2 linked regions of the Homo sapiens genome follow. The protein of the gene in region 1 interacts with the protein of each later gene in a biochemical or structural test. Each region holds a gene or a part of one and is shown in the gene's direction. Other genes may lie near its edges. The genes, in order: MMP2 and PAK4.

What was found.
Region 2: the proteins of MMP2 (region 1) and PAK4 form a complex in vitro, tested with the Homo sapiens proteins (one study listed by BioGRID).

Annotation. Positions count from the first base shown.
Region 1 is NC_000016.10:55,485,502-55,489,311, forward strand, and holds part of MMP2 (72 kDa type IV collagenase isoform 1 preproprotein), read left to right. Parts: intron 1-102; coding exon 103-276; intron 277-3,041; coding exon 3,042-3,215; intron 3,216-3,810.
Region 2 is NC_000019.10:39,170,523-39,174,332, forward strand, and holds part of PAK4 (serine/threonine-protein kinase PAK 4), read left to right. Parts: intron 1-2,395; coding exon 2,396-2,854; intron 2,855-3,053; coding exon 3,054-3,488; intron 3,489-3,810. UniProt on the Homo sapiens protein: Serine/threonine-protein kinase that plays a role in a variety of different signaling pathways including cytoskeleton regulation, cell adhesion turnover, cell migration, growth, proliferation or cell survival.

The DNA of each region.
Region 1 (3,810 bases):
AGGTGGGAGGGGAGGAAAGTCACACATCTGGGTGAGTCAGAATCTTGGTCTCCAAAGAAGGCCTGGAGAAGTCCAACCTCCCCCTTCCATGTCACTCTTTAGTGGTCCGTGTGAAGTATGGGAACGCCGATGGGGAGTACTGCAAGTTCCCCTTCTTGTTCAATGGCAAGGAGTACAACAGCTGCACTGATACCGGCCGCAGCGATGGCTTCCTCTGGTGCTCCACCACCTACAACTTTGAGAAGGATGGCAAGTACGGCTTCTGTCCCCATGAAGGTGAGCATCCACTCTAGTCCCCAAGACTTTCCACCCCAAGCCTCCAGCTTCCCGGGCTCCCCAGTGTGCTCTTCCCTCCACACTCTCCAGGACTGGCTGCCACTGCCAGTTAATGAGCATCCCTCCAACGTCCTTCACTCAGTTCCCCCCCATCCTGATCTGAGCCATTGCTGTTTCTCTCCCACCAGTACCATGATGAACGTAGTACTCTAATTAAATCAAGTTGATTTTTTTTAAGTTTCACCATTAGCAATCATTTAGGAAGTCACAGATTTGATTTGCTAATTATTTATTTCTAATATATATTGGAGTGAACTTAGAACTATTACAATGCCCAGTGGTTCTCTCTAGAACCAGTCTTTACACTTCAGTCAAGATTGATACTTCAAGGGCATGAGGAAAGGCTTGCTGGTAGCTGGAAACCTAGCAGTGTGATAGGGAGGCAGGACTCAGACCAGGGCTGGACTCAACCTGGTTTGCGTACTCCAACTGAGGAATTTCAGCTATTGCTCCTGCCTTGGTCCTGATGCTGCCTCTGCTAATGCGTGTGTGTGTGTGTGTGTGTGTGCCTGTGTGTGTGTGTGTGTGTGTGTGTGTGTGTGTGTGTGTGTGTCTGGGCACGGGGGCTATACTATCTGCCTCTCTTGGGCACTGTCTTTTTCTGCCTCCTGTCTAGCTTGTGTCTGCATCTCTGTGTCTTGATAAAGACTTTAGGCTTGACTCAGTATTTGTGTTTGTGTGCTTGTCAGTGCCTGAGATGCAACATTTCAGAGATTTTGAAGCCACATGGGGGAAATCTTTTAAAATGGGGTACAGATATTGACATACACACTCAATCCTTTTTAAAAATATCCTTGACACACTTAATAGTCATAAATCACAAAAAGACAATGTAACTTCATACTCTATGAAGTCATCATATTTGATAATTCTGCAGATTGAAAGCCCAGAAAACCTGGCGAAAATGGAAAAAAGTCTAAAAATTTTTAACACTATCTTCTTTCCCATGTCACAAAGACTCTATAGTCTACATAGACTAAAGACTGTCTTTTTGTCTGTAATTTTATGTCTGTGAATCTCCCTAACCCCACTGTAACTGAAAACTAAGCACCAACCATCTTGACAGAATGAAAGAAACAAAGAGCTAGTTAATTCCCTTCCTGTTTATGCTTTTACTACCAGAGCTAAACTTTATATTAAGTAAGAGTTTAAGCCATTCACCATTAATAAGTCAGACATTTTGAAATAAAAATATTTTTTGTATCTTGCGTTTCCCGGTAGGGATTACATGTGGCGTTAACCCTTCCCTGTGTCACCCCTCTGATAGGAACAGAAAGCTTTGGTGATAGTTAGATGTGGAAACAGCTGTATTTCATAAATTTGGGAAGGGTTATTCCCTGCATTGGACATTAGCCATTTACTTTGTGCTTAGCCAGATGCAAGTACGCACAACACGCACGTGTCTGGGTCTCGAGGCAGAGATTGTTGTTACTCAGCCCCTGCTGATGGCTGAGTCAGTGTCTGATTCTTGCCATCCTTGTCAGGGGAATTTGGGAGGAGACAGGGGCTTCCTGGGTGGTAGAAATGAGAGGTCAGAGGCAGGGGGCTGGCATTGGTCGAAGTTAACGCTTTGCCTTTCTCAACTCTGAGGCCACTAAGGTATCTGGACTCAGTCTTGCCTTTTCTCTAGGTGCCATTGTTTCTGGCATTGCAGGACAAGGTCTTTTGGTAGAGAGGGGAGTGGTGAGGATACAGGGCCTCGAGTTCTGTGGTGGGAGGCCAGGGACTGGGCTCCATTCCGGCCATGGTGGAGTTAACGGGGGCTGGTGAGGTCACCTCTGGCGCCGTTGTGCACAGATGGTCCTTGTTATGGACTTGTGGTTTTGCTGGTTGGCAATTCCAGAGACACCATTTTTTAGCTTTGGGTGGATGAGGGGAGGATGGGGAGAATCCAAGACAGACAGGCCAGGCTCTGAACCCCACTCCCTCCCCCAACTCTCCATTTATGGCCCCTGTCTTGAAGATGTCAAAGTAGGAGCCCAGAGTGTTTAGTAAAAGGGACCTGAAGGCACCACCTCCCTCTCCCTCCCTCCTCCTCTTCATTCTTTCTCTCCTTCCTACAGAGACTGCAACAAGGCCATCCAGGAAGGGGCCTGGGGTTGACAGGAGGTAAAGCAAGCTTTCTGTGTATGCGTGTGCACGCACACACACATATATGAGAGTGACAGACTAAGCAAGAGAGATTGAGATTAGTGTGTTTTGTAGTTTTTAGTTACAACCTTCATTCACTTCTTTCATTTCTGTGACCATGAGCAGTTTGAGAACCATCTTTGTCCTAGCCTTGATTTCTCCACCTATCAAATGGAGAGAGATTCTCGTGGTCCTGCCTGCCATGACTGATATATTCATGTCATACATCATTATTACATGAAATTTGCATGGTACAGGTGTGGACCAGGCAGAATGGACAGTGCCCTTGGGGCTGAGGCAGGGTTCTAGAAGCCCTTGCTGTGTGCCAGGTGTCAATCATTTTGTTGTTGGGTGGTCCACAAGGTCCCACGGGAGGGATTGGGATAACCAGGGAAGCAGGGGTTCTCTCTGGGAGCTCAGAGAAGCAGCTCCTTACCAACCAGTAGAGATGTTTTCTTAATATTTTAACAATGCATCAACTTCACTGGTGTGAACCGGCAGGTGGGCAGCCAGCCAGCCCTGTGCCCATGGAAGCATGTCTCATTCACATCCTTCCCTCTCTCCCCCACCCTTAGCCCTGTTCACCATGGGCGGCAACGCTGAAGGACAGCCCTGCAAGTTTCCATTCCGCTTCCAGGGCACATCCTATGACAGCTGCACCACTGAGGGCCGCACGGATGGCTACCGCTGGTGCGGCACCACTGAGGACTACGACCGCGACAAGAAGTATGGCTTCTGCCCTGAGACCGGTGGGTGCCACTCCCTCTCCCTCCCTCAGGGCCCAGCACCTGCTGTCTGACAAAAAAAAAACCCATAAGACTCCGAGTGCCCACCTCCTTTCCCCAAGACAGGGGTGCTAAGACATCTGTGCGAATGACATCCACACCAAGATGTCCGTGTAGCTAGTCAGGATACTTGTCACCTGGTATGGCCTGGGCACTGAAATCAGAACAGACATTGGGCATCAACAGTTGAATTGGTGACACTTAAATGTCAGGCCTGCTCAGGATCCTCTGACCGACCTGCATCCCTTTTCTCTCAGGCTCTCTGGCAGAGACTTCTCTCTCCTCCTCTCTGACCCTGCAATCTCTCTTCCCTGCCTTTCCTGGTCTGTATCTCCACCTTTTAGTCTGTTTTTTATTAAGAGCTCCGTGCTTTCCTCCCTGTCTCCTTCCTGCCCTCCTCTCTATCCCTCCCTCCTTTCCTTCTTCCCTTCCTCCAACAGGAATTTACTGAGCGCCTGCTTTGTGCAGCATACACAGAGGTTGGTCTCTGCAAAGCCCTGCCCAAGGGGGCTCACAGCTGAGGGGCATGTGCTGGTGCCATCAGCTTCATCCAACTCCC
Region 2 (3,810 bases), on another chromosome or scaffold:
GCCTGAGCCCGTGCTGGGCCTCTGAAGCCAGCCTTGGAGCCTGGACTCTCTCCCATGGTCAGTGGGGACCAGGAGGGGCCGCAGGCCAAGGGGAACTCGGCCAGGTTTGCATCCAGCGGGTGGAGATGGGTGTGCCTGGGGACTCACCCTCCCGGTGCCCAGCCCAGCCTGGCGGGGAGAAGCCCCAAGGCCCACAAGTTGGCCATAGACACAAGTGCAGCCTCAATGTGGTAGCCCACTGAGGGGTCCGTGTGGTCCTTGCAGGGTGCTTTTGAATGCTTTGACTTCTTTGCCTCCACTGAGAAAGTGACAGACTTCACTTCCAAAGCCGTTTCTGGCATCTGGTGACAGACCAGCTGGAGGCGAGTGGCAGCTGCCTCCACGGGCAGGGCACTGGCTCTTCTGGGCCACAGGCCGCACCCGACCCACCTCAGCTCCACGCCCTGCCTGGCTCTGTGGCCACTTGCATGTAGGCTTTGCCCCCACCAAGGTGTCTCCAAAAACCCAGCCCCTGCCTGGCTTGCCAGATGTGAGGCCTGCCTGTGACTGTCCCAGCAGGAGGCAGGGCACTTGAATTCACACATGGGGCCTTGTGGCCAGCACTGTCCTGGGGCCCCATAGGCACTTGTGTTTGCTGCCCTTGACCGGGCCTCAGGCCTCCCAGGACCTTCTCGACTCCCTGTTGGTTTTTTTTTTTTTTTTTTTGAGAGACATTCCTGCTCTGTCTCCCTGGCTGGAGTGCAGTGGCGCCACCTCGGCTCATGCAACCTTCGCCTCCTGGGTTCAAGCGATTTTCCTGCCTCAGCCTCCCGCGTAGCTGGGATTACAGGCGCCCACCACTATGCCCATCTAATTTTTGTATTTTTAGTAGAGACGGGTTTTCGCCATTTTGGCCAGGCTGGTCTCAAACTCCTGACCTCAGGTGATCCTCAGCCTCCCGAGGTGCTGGGATTATAGGCGTGAGCCACTGCTTCTTGCCTCAACGCCCTGTTCTAACAGCAAAGTCTGGCCTTGTGTCCACCTTGACTTCCTGGGGCCCCTGGGCAAGGCCCGGCTTCAGGCAGACAGCCACGGCCAGGAGAGACAGGGCAGCGGCAGACCACGGATTTTGTGGGATCAGTGTTTTCTACACGTTACAGGCAGGCCTCTGGCTGGAGGATGCCTGGCAGCCCCAGGCAGGGTCCGGGTTTCGTGGGATCAGTGTTTTCCACACATTAGAGGCAGGCCTCCGGCTGGAGGACATCTGGCAGCCCCGGGCAGGGTCCTTGTCAGCAGGGCCCACGTTCTCAGCTCACTGTGGCCTTTGCACAGACACCTCACTCACTACGTGGTTTAGCAAAAGTTCACTGAGCCCCTGCTGTGCGCCAGATGCTGGTCTAGGTGCTGAGATGGAGCAGGACCCGAAGCAGACAGGAAAAAACAATCCCTGCCCAGAGCATGCACTAGGCAGAGCCGGGAGCAGACAGATGCCTGTGTGCTCTGTATCAGCTGCTGTTAGGTGCTCTAGGTAGAATGCAGGCAGGGCAGGGGCCGGGGAGGGCAGGGGCTGGCATTTTAGATGATGGGAGGCCAGCAGAAGCCTCACTGAGAAGCTGAGTTTTGAGCAAAGACCTGAAGGAGTGGAGGGAGGGAGCCACAGGGACCCTGAGAGCTGATGTTCCAGGCAGAGGGAGCCGCCAGCGGAGAGGCCCTGGGCGCAGGGGGGCGGGGGTGGGGGAGACACCCGTGTGTCTGGAAATGGAACGGGGGCAGAGGGGGCCTGCAGGACACGACTCAGACCACAGAGGGTGGGGACCGGGTGACTCGGGATGCACTGGATGCTCTGCCTGGTCCCCATCTGCATTTGCATTTGCCACCCGGCTCCTGGGACCCCCTTGCCCTCTACTTTGGGACCAGGCCTTTCTGACTCTCCCTGTCCCCCACTCCTTGTTGTTCATGGGAGCAGAGAGTGTGGTTTTGGGGCTAAGGAACACTGGCGCCCACATGGGAGGAAGTGCCAGGCCAGGCCCTGGCCCCAGCGCCCTGTCATTTGCAGCCCTCGGGGCTGATTATGGGGTGGGTCAATTTCTGCCCTTCCTCCCCCAAACCCCTCAGGGCAGGACTATTCCACCAGTGTGAGGAACAGGAGAAAAACAAGGGGGGCCTCTCCAGGGTCCCACCGAGCCCAGGGGGCAGCAGCCTGGCCATGGCGATCACTCCTCTGGCCCCTGCAGCTGTGTCCCCAGGGAGGGGAGGGGCTGCACTGCCCATGCCATTGTCACTCCATGGCATCTCTTCATTGCGTCTCTGTCTTGTCTCTGTGTGTGTCGTGCTGTCCTGTCCCTGCGTGTCGGATGCACGTCCTGTGTGCCCCACTCCTTGCTGGGCCCCCACCCACCATTGCCTGGGACCCCAGACCATCGTGCGGGGCAGCAAAGGTGCCAAAGATGGGGCCCTCACGCTGCTGCTGGACGAGTTTGAGAACATGTCGGTGACACGCTCCAACTCCCTGCGGAGAGACAGCCCGCCGCCGCCCGCCCGTGCCCGCCAGGAAAATGGGATGCCAGAGGAGCCGGCCACCACGGCCAGAGGGGGCCCAGGGAAGGCAGGCAGCCGAGGCCGGTTCGCCGGTCACAGCGAGGCGGGTGGCGGCAGTGGTGACAGGCGACGGGCGGGGCCAGAGAAGAGGCCCAAGTCTTCCAGGGAGGGCTCAGGGGGTCCCCAGGAGTCCTCCCGGGACAAACGCCCCCTCTCCGGGCCTGATGTCGGCACCCCCCAGCCTGCTGGTCTGGCCAGTGGGGCGAAACTGGCAGCTGGCCGGCCCTTTAACACCTACCCGAGGGCTGACACGGACCACCCATCCCGGGGTGCCCAGGTAACCCATCCCCCGCCCCAGGGCCCCCACTGTCCCCTGCCCGTTGCTCCTCTGTCCCCACCTTCCAGCCCCGCCCCACCACCGTGCATCTCATCCTGACCACCCATGTGTCTGTCCCATCGCTGGGTCTCTCTCCTGCTTAGGGAGCAGAGCTGCTCCCTGGCACCCATCACTGACAGCTACCTCTCTTCTGTTTCAGGGGGAGCCTCATGACGTGGCCCCTAACGGGCCATCAGCGGGGGGCCTGGCCATCCCCCAGTCCTCCTCCTCCTCCTCCCGGCCTCCCACCCGAGCCCGAGGTGCCCCCAGCCCTGGAGTGCTGGGACCCCACGCCTCAGAGCCCCAGCTGGCCCCTCCAGCCTGCACCCCCGCCGCCCCTGCTGTTCCTGGGCCCCCTGGCCCCCGCTCACCACAGCGGGAGCCACAGCGAGTATCCCATGAGCAGTTCCGGGCTGCCCTGCAGCTGGTGGTGGACCCAGGCGACCCCCGCTCCTACCTGGACAACTTCATCAAGATTGGCGAGGGCTCCACGGGCATCGTGTGCATCGCCACCGTGCGCAGCTCGGGCAAGCTGGTGGCCGTCAAGAAGATGGACCTGCGCAAGCAGCAGAGGCGCGAGCTGCTCTTCAACGAGGTGCGGGCGCTGCTGCCCTGCCGCCCTGCTGGTCCTCCCACCCCTCCCTCCCACCCTCCCTCCCCTCCTCCCTCCTCTCCCTGCACTCCTCCGTGCTGGGCCAGGCTCCCCTCCTCCCCTCACTCTTCTCCCTCCCCAGGCCGTCTCGTCCGCCCCAGCTGGGTCCCTGCCTCTGTCCTCACAGCACCCTCACCCACATCTCTGTCCCTGAGCCCCAGACCCAGGGTTCCTCGGGCCACTGACCCCCGACCCAGTGTCTTCCAGGCCCCTCGCACCCACTGAGGCCCGCCTGGGCTCCAGGGTACAGTGTCCTCCAGACCTG